Homo sapiens: one gene and its partner. The gene in region 2 interacts genetically with the main gene of each other region. Each region holds a gene or a part of one and is shown on either strand. Other genes may lie near its edges.

Region 1 (3,500 bases), on a different chromosome or scaffold from region 2:
TCTACTTTACCTGATTAGGAATCGTAGGCTCTGAAAAATTGACTTACCCAAAGAAACTAAGTTTGTACAGTTTATAAGGCTAAGATTTGGACTCAGACCTGTTTGTCAAGAGTTCAGTTCATGCTTTTTCTACTAACTAGTCTCTGTCTCTGTCATAAATCATAAATATAATTCCTGATAAGTATGTCATTTCCTTGCTAGGAGTGCCAAATTACTTTTGGAGTATAAAATCTTATTACTGATGCTAGCTTAGCAAGTTACACTTTGGAAACATTTTCACCTGTTATAGTCCTTACAAACTAACCCATGAGTAGGTATCTTTCCTACCATTATATTGATGGGCAAAACTGAGTCTCCTTGTGGAGTTATAGCTCATAAGGACCAGTGATAAGACTGGAACTCAAGCCTTGTGGATTTAAAAGTAATTGAATTTACCAGCGAAAATCAGAAAAGATTTCAAAGAAATAATATCTAGAACAAGTCAGAGCCTTGTAAGCCCCTCTTTAAAACAGGTTTTAAAATATATAGTTGGCCATTTTATTTAACCACATCCATAGTTTAAATATCATGGTTAGAATAGGATAATTTACCAAATGCAGTTCTGAACTGGTGAGCTTTCTGAATTAAGACATATGTCTGTACTACACAATTCATGATCTACTCTCCATGTCAAGCAGGTATCGTCCTCATTTATGTGGATATATAAAAATCCCAAAACAAAGTGCATCAAACCACTAACTTAACTACTGTGATTTTTAAAATATGAAAACTAAGAGAGATTGGGTGAGAAAAAGATTAACTATGGCAAAATCCTTTTCTATATGACTTGAACATTAGGAGTTGCAAAAATTGTTACACAGAAGTATTATTTGGAGAAATTTTAAATAATACCTTTTAAAGTTTAAATAAAAGAAGAATTAAAACTTTTTTGGAATAATTTAGTTGAACTTTTAATCTAGAAACCTAGATTGAGAAATAAATACAACTGTGAAAAAATATAGTTAAGTATCAAAAATTGTAGAAATTTAGAGCTGAAGGGATCTTAGTGATCACCTAATTCAATGATCTTATTTTAGTGGAAAAATACTGTGGCCTAGGGCCTGCTACTAGATTGCTAAATTTGGAGAAATTCAAACTTAGTTTTGGTATTTTTTAGCAGGTGGAAGGGGCGATGATCCATGGAGTGTCAGTGATCAGATGGGACATAAAGTGGTTTGTGATTTCGTTTCTTTAAAAACTTGTCTTTTGTGGTTATGAGGAGGTTTTTTTTTTTTTTTTAAAGCACACTAATTTGCTAATAAAGTACAGAGAAAGAAGTTCAAGAGCTTGGCCTGTTTCTTTGAAAGTTAGTGACAGAGTCAAGATTAAAAGCACACCCTTGATTATCATGACAACTTTTATTTATATATGTCACTGTAACACCTGTTTGGCCCACTGAGCCGTTCTGCCCTCATAATGCGCCCATGAGGCTGCCCAGAGCAGGGTCAGCCAGTGAACCTGTGAGGGTGAGCAAGTGAAATAACAAGAGGAAATGTCTAAGAAGGGTCCCAGAGGGCAAGAGAAAAGACAAATGTTAGTATCTTAATTCCTCCAAACCTAAGTAGTTTGTCTTATGGTAGCAGAGACATTATATTAATGGAAATACCAGAGTTTGTGAAAATTTCAAAAAGATAAAGCTGTCCCTTAGGATTCAGTAGCTTAATGGCTTGCAAAGGAGCTAAACCTAAGTGTTTTAGGCAGTGCAAAGCTGGGCTCTTAAAACTTGCTTCAAGATAGTGGAAACAGAAACATTCAAAGTACCTTTATCTTCTTGGAAGTAAATGTGACAATAAAATAATGATTTGAAGGTCATACAGAAAGTTGTAAGGCTACATTTAAAATGCAAAATGCACATAAAGGCAGTATGTTCACTGCTAATGAAATCCAGTGACTTTGTCCTGAACTAGAGTTTCTATAGGAAAGTGTTGTTATTTTTGGTAAATAAAAATATAAAACAAACACATGTGCTTAGGGCTTAAATAAATGAGTGAGCAGTTTCTGTGTTTTATCATTTAGCCCTCACAGTAACTCTCTGAAGTGATACTGTCATTATCCCCATTTTCAAGCATGGAAACTGAGGATTAAATAACTTAAGTAACTTGTCCAGGATCACAGACCAGTGAATGATGGAGCCGGAACTTTAACTCAGCGTTAAACTCCAAACCCAAACAACCAGTAAAAGTTATTGCTTCATTTAACTAAATTCCAAGTCCATAAAATATTAACCCCATATGTGTCTGATAGGCTTTCTTTATGAACAGTTTACAAAATTTACTTTTAAATTACTGATAAATATTAATGGTAGATTAAGAGTAACCACTTGTAGTAGAAAAATCTAAGAAATTCAGAATTTCAGCTAAAAGATTATTTAGTGAAATCTGAACGCTTCATTTAACAGGTTGGAAAGCTGTGGCCCAGAAGCTTACTGACACTCAATAGCGTATTGCTGATTAGAAGTTTGCAACATTTTAGGCTAAACACTAAATAAAATCCACTGATTCTAATCAAAACCACACAACATACCAGATTTTCATTGCATAAAATATTTTTAAAATAATTTATCAGTTGACAAGCCTCTTATAAATCTTTGCATCCTTAGTGCTTTTTAAGTGCCTGCTTAGCATGTAAAACAGGAACCAAGTTTTTTTAAGTATAATCATTACAGTTTCAGGATCCAAGTAAGTGTAATCATTACAGTTTCAGGATCCAAATAAGTGTAATCATTACAGTTTCAGGATCCAAATAAGTGTAATCATTACAGTTTTAGGATCCAAAGCATGTTTAACTTGTTGCATAGTAATTTTTATGTACCTCTGAACATTCCTCTGCTAGGAACATATTTTATATCAGCAATAATTTTAGGCTCTGATTCTCATGTGGCCTTTGAAGAACTCTTTTTGTTGCTTCTTGGTTTCAGCTTTGGAAATCTAGAGAAACCCAATTAAGATTTAATATTACAAAAAGAAATCAGATACCTAAAACATTAAATATGCACTGAAAATTATTTACCAAAAACTGAAACAAGTAAAAAACATTCCCTTATTTGAAAAATGCCTTTCATTAGAAGCCTTATGATTTAGCTAAAATGCACAGAAGATAAGTTATTGCCAAGTGCTTGTAGGATGCCACTTGAAAAGTTCCTGTTTGAGAGTCCAGGTCTTATTTCCTCCCAAGAAAAATTTAGTTATCACCATTTTATATTTTACTTTGTAAGTTAATCTTTTACTTGGGTATCTGATATAATCTCATTTTTCTTTTTTATATAATTGCTACTAACTTTGAAAAAAACACTGCTTATTTCAAAGAGAAATAATGTTTAAAAGATGTGAAGCATTTAATCCTTGAATGCTGGAAACACTTTTAAAGTATTGTAAGTACATCTGTATTACATTACACACAGGGAAAAGAATGTATGAATTCTATGATCTGTGGGCACTAAGGTGGCTGGTTTAGAAAAACAG
Region 2 (2,879 bases):
GTACAGTTTAAAAGTGATTCACGATTTGCAGGCTTTTTATCAGATCACAAAAAAATCAGTCTTTAAGCATTTGCTTGGTAAGGTTTCTTAAGATTAGGTTTATAATACAACCATCTGTAATGTATCTCTCGTTTGAGCTTGTGGGCCATACAATTCATTAACTAGATGAATACATTGTGGACAGCATCCTCACTACCCCTCTCTACTCACTCACAAAGAACCATGATACACTGGAATGTTTTTCTCTGGAATCCTCTTTCTACTCTTGTATTAAAATTTTTCCCCACTTCATGATTATATTCAAAATAAACAACTACATCATTACTTCTTGTCTTTTGCTTCTGTTGTACTATATTTGGAATGTAGATGTACTTGGGAAAGTCAGGCTAGATCAAAGTTACTATTCTTACAAGTTTTGAAAATTAGTGTTTTAGAAGAAACTCACTCATGTTTGTAACTTCTTTATCTGTTCAGTGTTGAAAGATGATGGACAGAAGGAATCCTTGCCATGTTTCACATTTAATAAGATTCTTTCACTTTAATGCATAAAACCCTTTGAAATCAATGTCAACCAGGAAAATTCATGTTAGAAAAAACTGGAATGAGAGCTGATATTCTATATTCAGAACATCTGAGAAAGCATTTTTGACTATTACAAAAGTTTATTTAACAAAAAGTCTAATATGAAAATGTACATGACCTAATTTTTACATCATAGTAAAACAGGCCCTATGGAGAGAGGACATGGGTTTCTCTGCTGAACAGCCATTATTTATACTCGTTCCAAGGCTTCTAACATGATGATACTATTTCCTCGTATTACCTAAGAAAGAGAAAAATAAATTTGAAAAGAACAACTCAGGTAACAGACATAACTATGATGATTTAAGAATTTTCACCAAATCATTAATGGTTTTTTAATATTACATGTCGGTTTGCAAAGCTTTGTTCAAGCCACAGGGACACCAAACAACTCTAAGCCCTTTATACGACAGACATCTTTTGGATTTAAGGCTAACAATTTGCTTTATGAGATTCTAATGCCAAGTCTCCAATGACTAATTTCACCTTTTTTTTTGAGACAGTCTCACTCTGTTGCCCAGGCTAGAGTGTAGTGGCGCAATCTCGGCTCACTGCAGCCTCTGCCACCCAGGTTCAAGCAATCCTGCTTCAGCCTCCCAAGTAGCTAGGATTACAGGAGCCCTGACCACGCCCAGCTAATTTTTATATTTTTGGTAGAGACGGGGTTTCACCATGTTGGCCAGGCTGGTGTCAAACTCCTGACCTCAAGTAATCTGCTTGCCTCAGCCTCACAAAGTGCTGGGATTACAGGCGTGAGCTACTACGCCTGGCCCTAATTTCACCTTCTAAAATGCAGGACTCAAATTTAAATGCCCATCCCTGACTCTATGGGATCCAAAAATTAATGAGTAAAATATGTACAGTAGAGTATGTTAGGTACAGTTTGGAGGTATGAGATCATTTAGGGAAGAAACCAGGATGGGAAATTGTGAAAGGCATGCTTTATGAAAATGACATTTTACCTGGGTCTTGGAAATTGGGCAGAATTTTGAAAAGGAGATTGTAGGAAATTCTAGACAGAACTAAGATGAAGACAAAGTATGAGAGGATAAGGAAGTAATCTAATTTGAATGCAGTAAAAAGTTCACGAAGAGAATCAGGAAACAAAGATAGTTGGCATTCAATCTTGGAAAGCTTCAAATGCCAATCTTAGTGTTTGGAGGACATCAGAAACTAACAATGAGCCAGTGAGAGTTTCACTTGGGGGAATGACAACCATAAGTGTCCCTGCAACAAGATATTATATAAATACGCCGAAGTTTGAATAGGACAGAACCTAGAGGCAGAAAGAGAAGTTATAAAAAAAAGGCCCTAGGAGAACAGTGCTTGACCTAGTAGATAAGCCATAAATGAAGATAAGAATATTTATCGGGGGTGTGGTGGCTCACGCCTATAATCCCAGCACTTTGGGAGGCCAAGGCGGGTGGATCACCTGAGGTTGGGAGTTCGAGACCATCCTGGCCAACATGGAGAAACCCCCATCTCTACTAAAAATAAAAAATTAGCCGGGTGTGGTGGCACATGCCTGTAATCCCAGCTACTCAGGAGGCTGAGGCAGGAGAAATCACTTGAACCCGGGAGGCGGAGGTTGCGGTAAGCCAAGATAGCGCCACTGCACTCCAGCCTGGGCAACGAGCGAAACTGTCTTTTGTCAAAAAAAAAAAAAAAAAAAAAAAAAAAACAACAAACCAAAACCAAAACAAACCAACAGACAAACTTATCAGAGTATAGATGAATCAGCTGGTAAATGAATTCAAGAGGGGTAGAAAAATAAGCGAAACTGGAAGGCTAGGGGACTAAAAACAGTAAGTCCCTAATAGACTGGAGATCATCATAATCGATAGATCACCCATCAGTCAAGTAGAATTGGATAGGTGAATGGAGGGGTACGGGAGGGAAAGAATAGGTAATGTAGGGGAGAGAAAGGTAATGTAATAATTTGAGGTGTTTATTAGAAATGGAGGCATTCCAAAAAGATTCAAAGTGGAGCTATGCTTATAGGCAGCTAGAGTAAAAGTAGTTGTAACTTATTCTTTTCTCACAGTATCATGCTTGTTTTATTTACACATACGCTATGATTTATTGTGTTCTCCATACAAATGTAAATTTTATGAGGGCAGGGACTTAGGTGCAAAACCCCAGTGCCTAAAATAGTAGCAGGCACACAGAGGGCTCAATAACCTGGTAAATATGAATAAAAGAACTCACATGTGATTACTGCAGCTGACAGAATAGAAGGGAACACAATTGGTAGGATAAGTGTCTTGGAACCTGGCAGCCAATTATCAGCAATGAGT

The links. A genetic interaction does not mean that the proteins touch.
Region 1: changes in SNRPG (region 2) and ZNHIT6 together harm fitness less than expected from each alone (positive genetic interaction), as found in Homo sapiens cells (one large-scale study listed by BioGRID).

The regions. Positions count from the first base shown.
Region 1 is NC_000001.11:85,659,934-85,663,433, reverse strand, and holds part of ZNHIT6 (box C/D snoRNA protein 1), read left to right. Parts: intron 1-1,156; coding exon of another isoform or gene 1,157-1,175; exon of another isoform or gene 1,176-1,316; intron 1,317-3,500. UniProt on the Homo sapiens protein: Required for box C/D snoRNAs accumulation involved in snoRNA processing, snoRNA transport to the nucleolus and ribosome biogenesis.
Region 2 is NC_000002.12:70,280,862-70,283,740, forward strand, and holds the end of SNRPG (small nuclear ribonucleoprotein G), read right to left. Parts: intron 824-2,879; coding exon 773-823; 3' UTR 501-772; downstream 1-500. UniProt on the Homo sapiens protein: Plays a role in pre-mRNA splicing as a core component of the spliceosomal U1, U2, U4 and U5 small nuclear ribonucleoproteins (snRNPs), the building blocks of the spliceosome.